Regions from separate parts of the Homo sapiens genome. Here region 2 is linked to region 1. A link means that fine-mapping ties the variant in region 1 to the expression of a gene that starts in the linked region. Tissue or cell type: whole blood. Region 1 holds a variant in brackets; the other region holds the start of a gene. All regions are shown on one strand. Distances are from middle to middle. Region 1 overlaps MED12L (mediator complex subunit 12L). Region 2 holds the start of GPR171 (G protein-coupled receptor 171).

The links.
Region 2: it holds the start of GPR171, and the variant in region 1 is fine-mapped to the expression of GPR171 in whole blood (TOPMed, PIP above 0.99).

Annotation. Positions count from the first base shown.
Region 1 is chr3:151,218,160-151,227,975 of GRCh38, reverse strand. The region is part of intron 16 of MED12L (mediator complex subunit 12L); the gene reads right to left. It overlaps P2RY14 (purinergic receptor P2Y14), which reads left to right. Exons shown (of 3, transcript NM_014879.4): 2 at 8,334-8,441. Among named protein-coding and RNA genes, the nearest start is that of GPR171, 20 kb to the right of the region's middle. The variant C/A (reference allele first, on the strand shown) is at 4,338.
Region 2 is chr3:151,199,078-151,208,893 of GRCh38, reverse strand. GPR171 (G protein-coupled receptor 171) reads left to right here and starts at 5,678. Exons shown (of 3, transcript NM_013308.4): 1 at 5,678-5,790; 2 at 7,897-7,985; 3 at 9,455-9,816. The coding sequence starts at 9,508. All of the region lies in intron 16 of MED12L (mediator complex subunit 12L), which reads right to left.

The DNA of each region.
Region 1 (9,816 bases):
CTCAAGAAAATTTAGAAATGTGTGGGGACGTGGCTGGTTGCACAAACCATGGCGTTCTACTGCCACCTAGTGGATACAGGCCAGGGATGCGGCTAAACACCCAACAATACACAAGACAGCCTACCCACAAAGAACTGAAACCGAAAAAAACAGTTAACAGTACCAAGGCTGAGAAACCCTGGACTATTCCAATCATTATAGGCAAAAAATTACAGGTCCATCCTGACTACCAAGATGCAGTCCCTAGAGTAAAGGCTAACAGTGGGTGGCCATTTTCCTGGCCCCCAGTTTGCCATTCGGGAAGACTGCATGACTATGTATCCATTGGAGGTCATGAGGTGCCTATGCCACACCTCACCCTCCACTGACAGCTCCCATGATCCATTTGCATAATCACAAAGTGAAGACAGGCTGGAGTTCTTAGACATGCCAATATGCTAGACTTGCAGTCTGCCACAAGCTATGCCAAAAGTGTTTTGAGGGAAGCGATTAGAATACAAAGTAAAGACTATGTTTGGACGTTATCAGTTTATAAATCCAACCTAATCCGTCCCCCCTTACCATTCTCACACATAATCAAGAGTTGGATCTGTTTGTAGCAGAAATTCAGATTTCTTTTATCTTTATGGGTTGTAAAGACTGTGAATACGAAGATCAAGAGGGAATCAAGAGAGGGCCGAATTTATGCTTTGGTGGAGGAGGAAGTTCTTGGGTATCTGCAATTCAGCCTAAGAAGAATATTTAGATATTTCTAATGTGAAAACTTAGCACAGCTCCTCAATGAAAGTATGTGGCCACACCATTCAGCCAATTTTAAGTTACATTAACACATGTTGGTCACTGACCTGGATTCTAACTGAAGGTAAAGTCGATGGGTCACAGCAGCAGGAGTTAGGATCAAGTGACCTGATCTTGAGCTCACATCTCCTGCCAGAGAAAACTGGCTGAAGGTGACAAACAGCAGCAAGCAGAGCTCTCCTTGTGCCAGGGGCCCCAGGGGATCTGCGTGTGGCATCCAAACCACATGCAGCAGATCTGGGTTTCTCCCTGCAGAAGAGTTTCCACCATTTATAGGTTAACGTTACCTGTTGTAATCACCATTCATGATAGTCCGACTCTGTATCTCTCTTTGGATATCAACGCAGGAGATAGAAAACTGAGTCAAAAAATCAGAAACTCATTTTAAATACTTTTAGAAACTGGCAAATCAAAAGGAGGTTCTCTATGCCGCAGTATCTGGAAGATAACTGAAGAAACTGAAGGCATCCACCTCATGCAAAACCTTAAAACTCAGATCAAAAACAAAAATAATATATATACTCTCAAACATACACACATGCACATTCCTTTCTTGAAAAAAAAACACTGGCTGACTTCTCAAGATGCGACTCCAGCAAAATGTTGAAGGGCCTGTGTAAAGGATCACATTCATATAAAACATGCTGCCCCCACATTCTTTCAGGAGCAGGGGAGCCCTGGCTTGGAATCAATCAGACATTAGTTTGAATACTGTCTGGCTATGTGTTAGGTGCCCTTTGATGAATCACTTAACCATTTTAAGCATCACTGTCCTCATTTGTAACGTAAACGTTTACTCATTGGCAAGATTCCATCATGTTACCCAAGAGCTTAGGCCATCCATTTTCCCCCACTGTGACAGCCTCTCGTGTCAGTCTTGATGCCTGTTCCTATAGCTCTCTCACCCCAAAACTCCTTCCTTCTTCTTTGCCTAGCTAAAGCCAACTCATTTGTCAATCTTCACTATCACATGCTCCAGGAAGGCTGCCCTGATGCCACCATTTCTGAAACTAGATACGTGCTCACTGTGTTCCTGTGCTTCCTCCTTCAATGATGACCCCATGTCATACCTTGAAGTGTCCCTCTGTTCAGCCTCCCCCTAGACTGGAATCTTCCTGAGAGTTCCCTGATGTGTTTCCATAGGGCATGGCAGCATGTTCTGACGGCTTTATAGTGAGCAAATGAACAAAAGGCCTTGGCAAAGGAAGAAATATCAGGGGTACACAGGAGCCAAAGGTTACAATGTACTTTATAAACAGCAGATTTCAACAAGGGGAAATCAATGATATCAAAAACTGCAAGCAAAGAGGTCAGGAAATAGAATAACTGAGAAAAAGACAACAGACTTAGAAATTAGGTCCCTGACAGCTTCTGAGAAGTGTGGTGAGTGTCAAACATCAAATGCTGTGGGTAATGAAAAAAGATAGGGGGTGGGAGAGTTCCTTCTTCTGGGTGAAGGAGAAAGTGAGATTCTCCTTGACTGAGCCTAGACAGGGCACGGACAAGAGTGCCACAGGAATGCAGAACACGGATGAGACAGCTACCGATAGGATCTGACAGAAAGCTGCTACGGTTTGAGTGTCCGTTTCAAAATTCATTTGAAATTGATTTGCCATTGTGACGGCATTAAGAGGTGGTACCTTTGAGAGATGATTAGATCATGATAGCAAAGGCCTCGTGAGCAAATTAATGGTATTACTGCAGAAGTTGGCCCTCTTTTTCTCTTGGTCTCACATGCTCACTTGCCCTTCCACCATGATGCAGCAGGAAGGCCTCACCAGATGCATCCCCTCCATCTTGAGCTTCAGAGAATCCAGAACCATGAGCCAAATTAATTTCCTTTCTTTATAAATGACTCAATACGTAGTATTGTTATAGCAGCAGACAATAGACTAACACAGGAGCTAAGCAGAAGAAGGATTTCTGAGAAATAAGGGGAGTGTAGCCAATTACAGAGAGAGAACAGCAACTTCTGTGAAGTCGAGGGCACCCTGGACAGGTCTATGACTTAGAAACATAGGACATTGTTTACCCAGCCCTAAGGAGTCACAGTGCTGGGGCAGAAAGGCAAGCCCAATAGGCAGGGTGAAAGAAGTTCTAAAATATCCAGCTCTGCTTGGGTAAGAAAAGCTAGGAGGCTGATGACAGAGAGAATTAAATAACACTAGTAAATAATATAAAATATTTTAAAGATGTAAAACGCTGTAAGTTATTTTAGTAACATAAAATGTAATAAGCATGTTCTGATGGCTTTAGTGAGCAAATGAACAAACGGCCTTGGCAAAGGAAGAAATATCAGGGGTACACAGGAGGCAAAGGTTACACTATATAAACAGCAGATTTCAATAAGGGGAAATCAATGATATCAAATGCTGCAAAGAGGGTCAGGAAATAGGATAACTGAGAAAAAGACAACAGGCTTAGAAATTAGGTCCCTGACAGCTTCTGAGAAGTGTGGTGAGTGTCAAACTTTAAATGCTCTGGGTGATGACAAAAGATAGGGGGTGGGAGGAGGATTCCTTCTTCTGGGTGAAGAAGAAAGTGAGATTCTCCTTGACTGAGCCTAGAGAGGGCACGGACAAGAGTGCCACAGGAATGCAGAACACAGATGAGACAGTTATTTGTAAATTATTTTAGTAACATAAAATGTAATAACACAACTATAAATACACGACACATAAATACTATGAAAACCGCATAGGCGATCACATTGACACCAAAAAAAAAAAAAGTGTTAAACATTAAGGCATGAGAGATTAAAGCAGCAAGAAAATGGCTTCAGTAAGTTTAAAAATGTATAAATGATTACATACATCTATACTATTTTCTATTGATACAGAATCAGCTAGAAAACAAGTATTTATCTCATAGAAAAAGATCCAGAGCACTGTGTATTAAAGCTTTTGATGTCTGGACTGAAAGGAAGGAAAAAAAATATATAAAAGTTGTACCTTTATAAGAACTGAAAAAAGAAGAGGAAGAAAAATGCACGTCATAAGTGGGTACTGATAAAAGCATTATTTGAAGGCAATCCATTCTCCATAGATATTTCTATTCCTAATTATGAAATAATTTAAATATACAAAAACAGAAGTGCAGACACTAATGTTGATAACACCAATGTACCAGTCACCAGTGTTAATAGGCAGTAATATTAGGCATATTTGATTCAGAATTTAAGAAATAAAATATCACAGATACAGCAAAGTCCAACCACCCTACCACTTATAAGCTCCCACTTGTAAGTTAAAACACGAGGTATTTGGTTGGGTGTAAGGAGGCTGGACTTGCTCCTACTTCCCTCCCCAGGAGTAGGCAATGTTCTTTTCTTTTTTTCTTTTAGGTTCAACAGTTACATGTGCAAGTTTGTTACTTGGGTATATTGTGTGACACTGAGCTTTTGGGCTTCTAGTGAACCCATCACCCAAATAGTGAACACAAAACCCAAGAGTAAGTTTTTCCACCATTTCCCCGCTTCCTACCTCCCCGTCTTTGGAGTCTCCAGTGTCTACTGTTCCCATCTTTGTGTCCATGTGTAT[C/A]CAATGTTTAGTTCCCACTTATAAGTGAAAATATGTGGTATTTGGTTTTCTGTTTCTGTGTTAATTCACTTAGGATAATGGCCTCTAGCTACAACCATGTTGCTGCAAAGGACATGATTTCTTTTGTATGGCTGCATAGTATTCCACAGTGTATATGTACCATATTTTCTTCATCCAATCCATCATTGATAGGCACCTAGGCTGATTCTATGCCTTTGCTATTGTGAATAGTACTACAATAAACATGTGAATGAAGGTGTCTTTTTGGTAAAACAATTTGTTTTTCTTTGAGTATATACCTAGTAATGGGATTGCTGGGTGAAATGGTAATTTTATGTTTAGTTCTTTGAGAAATCTCTACACTGCTTTCAATAGGGACTGAACTAATTTACAATCCCACAAGAGTACATAAGTGTTCTCTTTTTTCTGCAATCTCACTGACATCTAGTTTTTTTTTTTTTTTGGACTTTTTAATAAAAGCCTCAATGTTGTAAAGTTAGAATATATGATTTACAACCAGCACATGTTCCATACTGCCCTAGGCCACTGAGATTATTACTCCATGCAGAACTTAACCTCTTTCTTTCCAAAGAGAATCTCATGACTTTTTAGGAACATTCTAAGTAAATATAAGATGATCACAATCGCCACCTCTCAAATAGGTATAAAATACCAATTTACATTTCCAAGAGACCATAAAGATGGGAAGATTATGATGAAATGTAATGAATAAACTTGGGCAAAGATCCTAGATTTCAGGCCTACTTGGAATATAATTTTTCTTGTCTAAAGTCCCGACTACAACAAAAATATTTTACCATCATCACCTTTATTAAATGTCTCCTGGGCACAGGATCTGGGGGAAAAAAATGATGCTAACTCAAAGAGTGGTACATGGACCAGCAGCATATCATGCTTTATTAGTCCATTTTCACACTGCTGATAAAGACATATTTGAGAATGGGCAATTTACAAAAGAAAGAGGTTTACTGGACTTATAGTTTCACATGGCTGAGGAGGCTTCACAATCATGGTGGAGCACATCTCACATGGTGGCAGACAAGAGAAGAGAGCTTGTGCAGGGCAACTCCCATTTTTAAAACCATCAGATCTCATGAGACCCATCCACTATCACAAGAACAGCACAGAAAGATCTACTCCCATAATTCAATCATCTACCACCAGGTCCCTCCCACAACACATGGAAATTAAGGGAGCCACAAGATGAGATTTGGGTGGGGACACAGAGCCAAACCATATCATTCCACCTCTGACCGCTCCCAAATCTCATATCTTCACATTTCAAAACCAATCATGTCTTCCAACAGTCCCCCAAGTCTCAATTCATTTCAGCATTAACTCAGAAGTCCACAGTCCAGAGTCTCATCCCAGACAAGGCAAGTCCCTTCCGCCTATGAGCCTGTAAAATCTAAAGCAAGTTAGTTACTTCCTAGATACAATGCAGTACAGGCATTGGGTAAATGCAGTCATTCCAAATGGGAGGAACTGGCTGAAACAAAGGGGCTACAGGCCCCATCCAAGTCCAAAATCCAGCAGGACAGTCAAATCGTAAACTTCCCAAACGATCTCCTTTGACTCCATGTCTCACACCCAGGTCACGCAATGCAAGAGGTGGGTTCCCATGGTCTTGGGCAGCTCCACCCCTGTGGCTTTGCAGGGTACAGCCTCCCTCCTGGCATTGAGTATCTGCAACTTTTCCAGACCAGCGGTGCAAGCTGTCAGGGGATCTACTATTCTGGAGTGTGGAGGATGTTGGCCCTCCTCTCACAGCTCCATTAGATGGTGCCCCAGTAGGCACTCTGTGTGGGGGCTCCAATCCCACATTTCCCTTCTATACTGCCCTAGCAGAGGTTCTCCATGAGAGCCCTGCCCCTGCAGCAAACTTCTGCCTGGACATCCAGGCATTTCCACACATATTCTGAAATCTAGGCGGAGGTTCCCAAACCCCAATTCTTGACTTCTGTGCACTCGCAGGCTCCACACCAGGTGGAAGCTGCCAAGGCTTGAGGCTTGCACCCTCTGAAGCCATGACCTGAGCTCTACAAGGGCCCCTTTCAGCCACACTAGAGTGGCTGGGATGCAGGGCACCAATTCCCCAGGCTGCACACAGCACAGAGACCCTGGGCTGGGCCCACGAAACCACTTTTTCCTTCTAGGCCTCCAGGCCTGCGATGTGATGGGCTTGCAGTAAAGACCTTTGACATGCCCTGGATACATTTTCCCCATTTTCTTGGTGATTAACATTCAGCTCTTTGTTGCTTATGCAAACTTCTGCAGCCGGCTTGAACTTCTCGTCAGAAGATGGGATTTTCTTTTCTATTGCATTGTCAGGCTGCAAATTTTCTGAACTTTTAAGCTCTGCTTCCCTTATAAAACTGAATGCTTTTAACAGCACCCAAGTCACCTCTTTAATGCTTTGCTGCTTAGAAATTTCTTCAGCTAGATACCCTAAATCATCTCCCTCAAGTTCAAAGTTCCACGAATCTCTAGGGTAGGGGCAAAATGCCTCCAGTCTCTTTGCTAAAACATAACAAGAATCACTTTTGCTCCATTTCCCAACAAGTTCCTCATTTCCATCTGAGACCACCTCACCCTGGACTTTATCGTCCATATCACTATCAGCATTTTGGGCAAAGGCATTCAACAAGTCTCTAGGAAGTTCCAAACTTACCTACATTTTCCTGTCTTCTTCTGAGCCCTCCAAACTGTTCCAATCTCTGCCTGTTGCCCAGTTCCAAAGTTGCTTCCACATTTTCAGATACCTTTTCAGCAATGTGCCACTCTACTGGCACCAATTTACTGTATTAGTCCGTTTTCACACTGCTGATAAAAATGTACCAGAAACAGGACAGTTTACAAAAGAAAGAGGTTTACTGGACTTACAGTTCCACATGGTGGGAGGCCTCACAATCATGGCAGAAGGTGACAGGCATGTCTCACATGGCAGCAGACAAGAGAAGAGAGCTTGTGCAGGGCAACTCTCGTTTTTAAAACCATCAGATCTCATGAGACCCATTCACTATCACAAGAACAGCACAGAAAGACCCACCCCCATAATTCAATCATCTCCCACTGGCTCCCTTCCACAACATGTGGGTATTACGGGAGCTACAAGATGAGATTTTGGTGGGGACACAGAGCCAAACCATATCACGTGCCAAACTCCAGACATAATGGAATCTCAGTCCTCATTTTAGCAAGATCCCAGGTAATGTGTATGCACATTAAAGTTTAGGGAGCACTCACTGGTTTAAAGAATTCAGAAATATGAAAACCTAGACTAAGGCAGAACCAAATCCAACCACCATTTTGCTAAACCTATCCTCTTCCTATCAGACCACATGGCTTTCAGGTGTTATCTCTGCAAAGTCCACACATTAGTCTCATTACACTGGTGGTAATCAAATGAGGGCAATTTTGTCCCTCAGAGGACATTTGGCAAAGTCTAGAAACATTTTTGATTACCGCAACTTGGGTAGTGGGTTACTGGCATCTAGTAGGCAGAAGTCAGAACTGCTGCTAAACATCTTACAATGCATAGGACAGCTCCCAAAAATAAATAATTATCTGGCCCAAAAGGTCAATAAGACAAAGGTTTTTAAAAAACAAAACAATTAAAAAAATCCACCTGCAATTAGACTTATGATTTCATGGCTAAGATGAATTGTTATATTCAGTCATTTGATAAATTGATTCGATCATCCATATCCAAGGGGGGGGGGGGGGTAATATAAACCAATAACCAAAACCACTTCATGCCCAAGCTCTCAGAGTTTAAGTTTCCCACAAGAGGCTGCAACCAAATCAATAATCAATAATGACAACAAATAGCAAGTATAGTGAAACAACAAATGCACATGTTGAAATATTTCACAATTACACAAGCTGAATTTAAGAAGTAAGTACAGACATATTTTCCCAATAAAAAGTCAGGTGCTCACTTAAATCTTTGGTTTTTTGTTTTGTGTAATGCAGGATCTTTAATGAAAAAACACTTGGGCCACTTCAAGACGACAAACGCTCACTGGGCAAAACACCTTCACTGAAAAGAGACCTCATATTATGCAAAAAAAATCTTAAAAGGTAATTTTTTAAATCCCTCAAGTATTATCAAGAGCTTTGTTAATTTCATCGAAGTGCTATGAAGAAAAAATTCTTTTCTTCACAGAAGGAATTACAGCTCACAATTAGGAAGGTGGAAGGTGTTCTAATACAAGAGGAAAATAGGTCATGGTATATAATTACACAGATGAGTAATGAACTCAGAGCTGACTAAGCCTGCTTTTATTAAGATGAACGTATTTCTGGAGTGAGCAATGCTTTGCACAGCCTTGTATCAATTAAATTCTGTCCAAAGAGAGAACCCTGAGGTTATCTGTAATACATGACAACTTGAAAACACTTCATGCAGCACAATCCTAAGATATTACACTGCACTAAGGGACAAGTGCACTCACTATCTAAATCAGATTGAATCTTTGGCATTGACATTCTTTCTACACAATGCTCCCACTACACTTTAATAACTGTCTTTGGGCCTCATAAATCTCATTCTGCCATGTTCTTTAATTATGTTACCAAAGTCTCCAAAGTGACAGTAGACAATGTAGGCTAAAACATTTCAGACCACTTCATTCTCATATATCTGGATTTGTGAAACAAGGCAAAATTTCACTGAAGAAAATTTCAAGACTTACACTATTACAGTATACCCCCCCTCTTTTTTTTTTTTTTTTTTTTTTTTTTTTTTTGAGACTGAGTCTTGCTCTGTCACCCAGGCTGGAGTGCAATGGTGGGATCTCGGCTCACTGCAACCTCCGCCTCCCAGGTTCAAGCAATTCTCCTGCCTCAGCCTCCCAAGTAACTAGGATTACAGGTGTATGCCACCACACCTGGCTAATTTTTTTATTTTTAGTAGAGGCAGGGTTTCATCATGTTGGCCAGGCTGGTCTCAATCTCCTGACCTCGTGATCCACCCACCTCGGCCTCCCAAAGTGCTGGGATTACAGGCTTGAGCCACCGTGCCCGGCCACAGTATTCCTTTTTAAAAAGTTTAGCTATATATATGAATCTTTCTTAAATGTGATCTCTAGAATTTAGGAAGCATTGTTTATATTCCTAAAGCCTCAAGGTTAACATAATGACAACTTTCACAGCAGAAATTCAGTGATAATACCAGAAGTAACTATCAATGAGCAGGGCTCCACAAACAGACACCTACACAAACTGGCTCACCAGACTGCCTGCTTATCCAGTAATCCAGTTAATCATCATCCAGAAGTCCTGTTCATCTTTTAATTTTTTTCTGTTGCCTATCTCTCCTCTTTAATGGACTGGCATGAGCTGGTAAGAAACAGTGAATCAACTGAGAAGTGGGCAGGGAAGGGAGGGTTGCTGAGCACACTAAAAGCTTCTTTTCTGATTCTTTTGGTTCTTATTTATTTTTACATTTTTGTAT
Region 2 (9,816 bases), 19 kb after region 1:
AGGGAAGCCCATACCTGCACTACTTCTCCCTTCTCTCCCAAATCCCCCATCATCTGATGACCTGCTAAACCTGCCCCAGAAGTGTGTGGCAAAGGGCTTACTTTCCTATCATTCCATTTCCTGACACAAATGAACACCAAGAAAACATGGCCCTCATCATATCCATACAATATTACATATTACTTAAATTCTTGATTTTTCTGTTTTCTTTTTTTGACATAGAGTCTTGCTCTTGTCCCCCAGGCTGGAGTGCAGTGGCGTGATCTCAGCTCACTGCAACCTCCACCTCCAGGGTTCGATTCTCCTGCCTCAGCCTCCCAAGTAGCTGAGATTACAGGTACCCGCCATCACGCCTGGCTAATTTTTGTATTTTTAGTAAAGATGGGGTTTTACCATGTTTGCCAGGCTGGTCTCGAACTCCCGACCTCCGGTGATCCATCCACCTCGGGCCCCAAAGTGCTGAGATGACAGGCGTGAGCGCCCGGCCTCAATGTTCTATTTTCTAAGCTAAAAGGGTCTCTACATTTAACTTGCAGCTTTTTTCAAGCTGTTAGTTATGTTGTACTTTCAACCATTATCTTTCTAAAGGAATACTAGCTCTCTCTGATATCATATTGACTGCATGAGAACATAATCCTTATAAAAGCCAACTTCAACTCCACATCAAATTCACTTTCTTGTTAAGAAAAACAAGCAACTATAAAAAAATTGGCATGGCCAAGTGTAGTTCATATCTGGCTAACAGTATGAAAGTAGTTAGGTAAAAAATAAGAAAAATGGTCTTATTTTAAATAAGAAAACCAGCATTTCCATCAAGGCCATTCAAAATAAGAGCTCCTTAAGTGTTTGCAAAGTACATTCAGAATGTTCTGGTTAATGACAGATAAAGCTCTGAGAAACATTTAAAACCTAAATGAAAAAGAATAAAATAAAAATCTATCTAAGCTATATCAAATAAAAACTTTGTCAGCCAATAAGGCAAATTCACCTTTCTATCTGACCAAGCTGCCTCTCTCCTCAGACTTCCTTTCCCAGGACTAAAACCTCAGTCTCCTCTGCTCCCTCTCTACCCCACCCTGCAGTGATCTTACTTCTGCAGTGGTTCTCAGCTATTCCTCCCTTCCCATGTAATTTCAGATCCTTATTGCTTCTCACTTAAAATGACTGCAATCTTTCCTTAACTGGCTTCTCACCTTCCACTTTCTCTCCTAACCAAGCAAACTCCAATGTTGGTAGATTCACCTAATACTGCCCAATTGACAGCTCCTTGCCTTGTATAACCATGAGCTCTCCAATGCTTACTTTATTAAAATCCCAGGGAGCATCCAAGATTTGGTCTCAATCTTTTCCTCACAGAGACACCCAAGCCCCCAAATTGCCTGACAGTCCCCCCCAAAATTTCTCATACTCCAATTATCTGTGTCATCCCCCAAGCATGCCACCTTGTAGCTCATTCTGAAGAAGCTCCTATTCACCCCACCACAGTCTGGAGCATTACAATACCCGGATTCCCACAGGTTCTAACAGCACATAGCAGGTGATAAGATTCCTTTTCATTCCTGTACAAAGCATAAAATATTCTCCAGGATAAGAGCTCAGGAGGCAGCCTGTAATTGATAAATATTTGCTGTTATAATTTTTCATAAATACTTGATCAAGAAATATTCACATGGCTGGGTGCAGTGTTGTGCCCCTGTAGTCCTAGTTACTCAGGAGGCTGATGCAACAGGATTGCTTGAGCCAAGGAGTCTGGGACTGCAGCAAGCTATGATTAGACCTCTGAATAACCACTGCACTCCAGCCTGGACAACGTAAGACGACCCTGTCTTAAAAAAAAAAAAAAAAATCACATGGCTAGGAAAAGGGAGATGTTCTCCAAAGAACATTCTCCTGGAAAGTAACTAAAAAGTTTTAAAAATGTGTTCTGTGCTTTGAAAATGTGTTAGTCATGGCCGGGCACGGTGGCTCACATCTGTAATCCCAGCACTGTGGGAGGCCGAGGCAGGTGGATCACGAGGTCAGGAGATCGAAACCATCCTGGCTAACACGGTGAAACCCCATCTCTACTAAAAATACAAAAATTTAGCTGGGCGTGGTGGTGGGTGCCTGTAGTCCCAGCTACTCGGGAGGCTGAGGCAGGAGAACGGCGTGAACCTGGGAGACGGATCTTGCAGTGAGCTGAGATTGCACCACTGCACTCCAGCCTGGGTGACAGAGCAAGACTCTGTCTCAAAAAAAAAAAAAAAAAAAAGATAATGTGTTAGTCATAAGTTCATAAGAAATGGACCATAAACAAACAAATGGGGGAAAAAAAGCATGAAATTCAGTGACTAAAAAGAAACGAGATAATCTTTAAAAGTTCTTTATTATAAATTTCCCCTCCATAAATTATCTTTTAACCATGGACCAAATAGCAGTCACACCTCACAACCAAAAGGTAAAATGAAATGTTGACGCAATAACATCAACAAAAAGGCAGACAACCAAAAGGACTGTCAAGGGGAAATGACAGGGTAATGTACCCAGCCATTCTTTTAACTGAGTTCACATTCCAAGAATGTGAAAAAAACAAATTTGCCTTCAAATCATTTCCAAACATGTATTCTCCATTTCAGTAAAGAAAAAAAAACAAGGCAGAATTTAAATAATACAGAAACAGTAACATGGAAACCATACGTCTACATTTCACTTTAAAACTACACTGCTTAATCACATCAGTCACTCTCAGATTTAAAGCTACCAATCTCAGAGCACAGAAAAAAATCTTTGGGCTAACGCAGGTGGGAAAGAATATTATGTGCAAAAAAAAAAAAAAAAAAAAATTATTTTCTTTCAAAACATAACCCTGAAGCACAACGGCTATAGAGAGAGGGCTGAACTGGAGTTGCACAGGCTGTGGCAGAAGTGACTGATCATAAAAATCTTCCATTTGTAAATTATTTTGATGTAAGAGCGTCCCAAATTCACATTCCAGAGGCTGAAAACTCCATGAGGAAGGCAAGAACAGTGGTACACTGTTCTACCACCCAATGGCATGCAAATTCAAATGGTTACAAATACTAAATGGGAAGGGGGACCGGATTGACCTGATGGCCTCCATTGTAATCACTGTCCCCAGCAATTTCATTGTAAGAAGCATAACTAAGAGCTGGGACGCTAGGGTCTAACTGTGCAGGCTTGAGTGGGCCTTAATTTCTCTGCACCACAGTTTCCCCATCTGTAAGAGGCAGAATCTCCTGTATCTCATGGCTTGTTTTAACAAAAACAAGTCCTCAGACCTGTGCCCGGCTGTGGCAGTGACCACCGACCCCAACATTTGCTTTCCCCTTCCTCATTAGTTCCAAATGGCTTCCATGCTATGCCGAAAAAGCACATTTTAAAAACGCTAAATATTCAAAGCAAGTATTTCTACTGAAATACCGTTGTTTGGTATTTGTGTTCAATAAAATCAAAAGCACGTTTTGTATGGATAGGAGAGTTGACCACAGAAAATATTTTCTTTCTCAATTCATAACTTGGTGGACAATTTAGCTTTAATTTTTATTTTACACATACAAAATATCCATGAAATATTCATAAGTAATGAATAGATTATTTCTTTAACAAAAAGTACTGCCATGACCAAGGTAAGGGAAAAATAACTTCACCTCACTTCTTCCCGCTTGGGTGTGTATTAGTGATGACATGCAACTTCCCGGAACACTAAGTACAGTCACAAACACTTGTCCTCAGTGAAACAGATAGAAAAAAGTGGCTTATAGAAAATCAAATGAAACTAGTATTAAAAAATGAAAACTACATGTATTTCCACTGTGAATAAACTTCCACACAAAGCCAGGTTGCCTAAGCTCATTCTCAGAAGGAGGAATATGATTCATCTATTAAAAGATTAATTCTCACTATTCTAAAAATTAAATAGAACTCTGAGAACAAGGGCACTTCAGTGCTTTCACATTTGGCAATCCAGACACAGAAACTGTGGTCTGGGTAGATTTTTAAGTACAATTGTTTGTACTTTTCAATTGTGTCTACAACCTTAAAGTGAACCGAGGAAGTAAACATATAAAGAGACCTAACTAAAAAAAGCAAAACAGAAACTGTCAAAAATCTTTCATCCCAGTTTTTCTCCATGCCATGGTAAAATCATTCACCACTGTTTGCAGTCAACTCCACTCATCTCTAAATTCTCTCCCTTTCATCTCCTCTACCCTCCAGTGGATGTAAACCCTGATCACTTCTCACTTACTTGTCTGCAAATATATCTTTTCTACAAGTATGTTCTTCAGTGAGTCCTGTACAATGTTGAAGCATACATATCTTAAAAGAAAGATCCTTTCCTAGCACTATGATGATGAAGTTCACAGTGGTTCTTAACATAAAATGTTTGAGAAACATTTGCTTTTTCCCTCCTAGTTTATAATTTATGGTCTTCACTGGCAAAAATAATAATTATATGAATTTGGGAGAATGTCAGAATACCTGAGACGTGACCAATATCATCATAAGCATCTTTACATTTTTTTCAAAAGTCTCCTTAGACTTTCCCTAAATTCTCCCTAGCTAGATACTTCTCATTTCATCTTTTGAGACATTTTTCTTTTTAAAAACTAATACCAAGAGATTAATTTTAGATCCTGGAAAGGTATCTTCTTTTTTCTTATCCAGAAAACTGACCAAGTATTATTAAAAGAAACCAAAGCACCTACCAAGCCAATGAAGCATTAGAAGAAACCAGACCCTAAATAACCAGGCAATGGCTTTGCATTAACACATCAACTTTGAACCAGAAAATTCAGAACTCTTGAAAATATGTTTGTTAGGTCCCCCAGCATGCTAGGCTTCTTTCAAACATTCAGTTAGTTCTGCCACAGACACAATGAACATTTAACCAAACAACTTAAATACACACTGTAGGGTTCCTTTACACACAATCTATTAATTACTAAATACTATTCCAATTCATCAGGCTGTTTGAGTCAAACAGACAAATACTTATTACAAGTCTAATCTCATAAATTGAATATATAATATATTCTTCAATGAAAAATTATAAACTATAAAATAGTATGAATAACATCTAAGTGGAAATACATAAGCATAGAAAAAATTTAAAACTTATGTACCAAAAATATTAACAGTAATTATCTCTCTGCATAATGATGTTCCTTTTTTATTTCTATTTCCAGATTTTTCTATAATGAACATAAAATAAGATAAATAAAATGTATACATTAGCTGACTCTGTAAAACACATCTTTTTGTTTACTTCTTTTTTTAATAATAGGTGTCTCAGCAGGAATAAAAACTGCAACTATTTTTTAAATTTTAACTTTGAAATGCTGTGTTACTATATATACTGAAAAAATATTTGCTTAAACACCTTATATCTTTAATTATTAATCCCCATCAAGGCATGAAGAGTGATATTCTTTGAAATCATTATGACACAAAACATACCTTGGATACTTTAAAAAAAAAAAAAGGCTAGGTACTAAATGAAGATCTTTTCTCTAAAAAATATGACAAATAAATTGCTTAAGAAAGCATACATGAAATTGTATACATTAAAAAAACTTCTTTAGGAGACTTTCATAAAGTTAAACTACTTGCAAACCACAGTTTCATCTACGTCAATATGCAACATTTTAAAACCACACAAAAAGGAAAGGAAATTTTTAGTAAAGCCAGCAGCCTGCAATGGGGTTGCTACTGCTGCGGCTAACCAAACAGCTCATGCTTCTCTGAAGACTTGCAGCAAGGCTTGCTGAGGCTCACAGAAGATAGCCCCAGGTATGTCTTTTTAAACACTTAATATATTCAAATGCTTTTCCGTGGAAAACAAAATTGTGATTTTTCAGTATTTAAGGCTTATAAGTAGAAAAAGCCAAGCTGTATAAAAAAAAAGCATCAATTTTTAAACTCTAAATAGGTCCTAGCTGTGAATGACACTATAATTTTCTTATATCTGATGAACCCATTCATCTGTCTCCAAAAGACAGGATAATTGACACCAGACTGAATACCTGAGCGAGCATAACTATTCAGTAACTCAATCTTATAACTGGGTGGATAGAGGCCATGTTGTAGATCTTCACAACAGGGAACAACAGGCCTTAAGATGACTTTCCTCTACAAACATTACAATAGGTGATTTCAAGAAGATTCCACTGTGATTCCCATAGAAAATCTAATAAGCTTTTATTTTGTTTTTGTTTTGTTTTGTTTTTGAGGAGTCTCGCTTTTTCACCCAGGCTGGAGTGCAGTGGTGCGATCTCAGCTCACTTCAACCTCCACATCCCGGGTTCAAACAATTCTCCTGCCTCAGCCTCCCGAGTAGCTGGGATTACAGGTGCCCGCCACCGCGTTGGCTAATTTTTGTATTTTTAGTAGAGACAGGATTTCACCATGTTGGCCAGGCTGGTCTCGAACTCTTGACCTCAAGTGATCCACCCGCCTCAGCCTCCCAAAGTGCTGGGATTACAGGCGTGAGCCACTGTGCCCAGCCAGTTTATTTATTTTCTAAGCAATGGGCACTCTATCCAAACTACAGAGACAGTTAAAATCTTGTATTGTTGTTGCTGCACTACTTCTGAGTATCTCACATTTTCACTGGTAAGTAACTGTCTGGTAAAATATTTATTAAGCACTTAGTTCTCAAACTTGTGACACAGAACACAGGATGTTATTATACAATATTTTAACCTCTAATTTACATAAGCAAAAATTTTAAATAAACAGATTTGTTTCTCACTGCAATTTAGACAAAAGTTCACAAACACAAATGTGAGAAATGTGAGATGCTCCATGATTCTTGAGAATTACTGAATGATTATTCATTTCAGATAAATTATTCATGTACGGTATATATCGTCAGTTCTAGCTACAGAGAAAATTAATCAAAATAAATTACTCTAATTCTTCTCTTTACCATATACGTCTCATTGATACAACAGACTTATTTTATAGTTGTGCAAGCAATGGAGCACTTAAAGAAACACATTATGTTACCATTATTATGTAATATTTGAAATAGAAGTGCGTAAGCCAAAATCCTAGGGCCTTAGAAAGTAACAATAAGCAAAGATGTGACACTATATCAATGCACACGAATACTAGTTTTTCACATAAAGAAGAAAAGTATGTTCAAAATTCCAAGGTACAAATGGTAACTATCCAAATTCATGGTCGCCAAGGACATCGGTAAAGCCTGGAGTAGCTTTCAGATGTGAGGAGCTTCCTTAAAGCTCTGGAATAAGCAGGATTCAGGAATAGTAAGGATAAATGCAGAGCGCTTAGAAGATGACCAATAAGAACAGATCTTAGTCCTGCCTGAACATGCTGTGAAAGCTTGAGGAACACACCAGTGCCAGCCCTCAATCTCCTCAACTGACTTGGGGATTAGACTACAGGCTATCGATAAAGTTTCCATCCATCCTTAAAATCCTATGACTCCAAAATTTCTATCACATGCAAAAGTATAAAGGCAGGAAGGAACTGTACACAGAATAATAGAGACCCCACCAATCCCAATCTTAATCTGGGATGTAAGTAGAGATGGTAGAGAGAAACTAGGTTATGGAAGCTTTGAGAGCAAAGTTGGTTTAAACTTATTGGATGGGCCTAGGTTTTGTTTTTAAATGTGCGTGTGAGAGAGAGAGAGAGAGAGAGAGTGTGTGCACGTGGTTGTATGCATAGAACAGCAAAATATACGAAAAGCCTAAACTTATATTCTTAGTATTTTGGTAAAAAGTTAAAAATAGTTTATTTCAGCTTTATTACATAAAAATTGTTTAGAACATAGTTCCTGCCCACACAGTAAGCCCTTAGTAAAGACTGGCAGATATAATAATAATCATTATCATTTCTATCATCATCTTACTATTGTTACTGAGGCAGTGTTTTGGAGTGGTTTTGAATGTGATTCTGAGATCAGACTGACTGAGCTGGAATCCTGGCTTTATATCTTACCAGCTACACAACCTTGGGTAAGTAACCCCATTATGCCTCAATTTCCTCATCTGTAAAGCAGGGACAATAACAACACCTAGCTTATGGAAATGATAAGAAGTTAAATAAGTACATGTAAAGTATTTGGCATAGTGCCAGATACAAACCAACTGCTTAATTATTTTCATCGAGTTTGGTAAAGAATGACATTATTCATGGACTCTAACGTGCTAACTCAGGTAGGGAAAGAGAAAGGGCATGTAGCCTTTAAGCAGCACTTGAATTTAGAAAGCTTTGTGTACATCTGCCTTATTCATCTGTTTGCATACATTGTTTCATTACAAATGCACACAAAGGATCATTAATTAATTGGGGAAATTAAAATTTAGAAAGATGTCAGAAGTTTTATTCTCTTATTAAAAGGCACTTACAGAGTAGCTGATCTGGCCTTCAATGTTGGTCACTATAACTTATATTTGCTTCTTTTAAAAAGGTTGTATTATAATATAAAATGTTTCCTTGCTAAAATACAAAAATAATCTTCAGGTCTTTAAAACAAAAGAACACTGTTTAATGTGCAAAAGGGGGACCCACACCAACAGGCAGCACCAGAAAGATTACTAATGTACCCTTAGCTCTAAGCATGTGAGTTTGAATAGACCAGGTCAAAGGGAGCCCTATCAGTTTAACTTGAGCTTACAAACCCGCTCAATGTTCCAGATTTGGGAGGGACATGACAAGACTTCATTGTCATTATCAGTGGTGATCACAGTAGTTCTAAGGGTATGTCTTATGCTTCTGGGCTTTTAACTGCTTCAAAACCCACAATGAAAGAAAAAAAAAGCGACTCAAGTGTTGAAGTCAGATGTTTTGATACTAATATAAATAAATCTTTCTCCAAGGATTTTGTAACCAATGAACATACATCCATGTTCTGGTAGTTGTGGGTTTTTTTGTTTGTTTTTTTGGTTTTTTTCTGTTTGTTTTTGAGACAGACTCTTGCGACCAGGCTGGAGATTTTCCATCAACTCCTTACTTCCCCTGTCAGCCTGGGTTCTCCCAGCCTTAGGAGCCACATGAATCTATGGAAAACAAAAAACTAAAACAAGAAAAAAACCAGAAGGCCTCATTGAAAGCTCTTCATGCTCAACCACAACCCTAGTTTCCTCTCTCTACTTCTCAGAATCTCGGTTCACTTATCTCCTCTGCAAACTAACTTCCAACCCAACTGGTAACAAGAACTACCAGAATGGAAAAACCTGAGGTTGAAAATATCCCTACCAAAAGCAAACCTGCATGGGATTTCCTGAAAGTCACAAAATCAGACAATGGAAAACCCAGGCATCTTCACAATCTAGTATGTTCTCACCAGGCCATATGGTCTGGTAAGTTCACCAATAAAATTCTAAGAACTGGAAAGACAACGGTATTGTGAAGACCAATGTCTTTTAAAGAAAATAGTTGCTAATTTTAATTACTAACCTCCCTTTCCTTGTTTCTTTTACAGAGTCTTAGAAATTTTTTCTTTTCAATAAGCAGTCATCCTTACTTTCCCTCAAGATGACAAACAGTTCGTTCTTCTGCCCAGTTTATAAAGATCTGGAGCCATTCACGTATTTTTTTTATTTAGTTTTCCTTGTTGGAATTATTGGAAGTTGTTTTGCAACCTGGGCTTTTATACAGAAGAATACGAATCACAGGTGTGTGAGCATCTACTTAATTAATTTGCTTACAGCCGATTTCCTGCTTACTCTGGCATTACCAGTGAAAATTGTTGTTGACTTGGGTGTGGCACCTTGGAAGCTGAAGATATTCCACTGCCAAGTAACAGCCTGCCTCATCTATATCAATATGTATTTATCAATTATC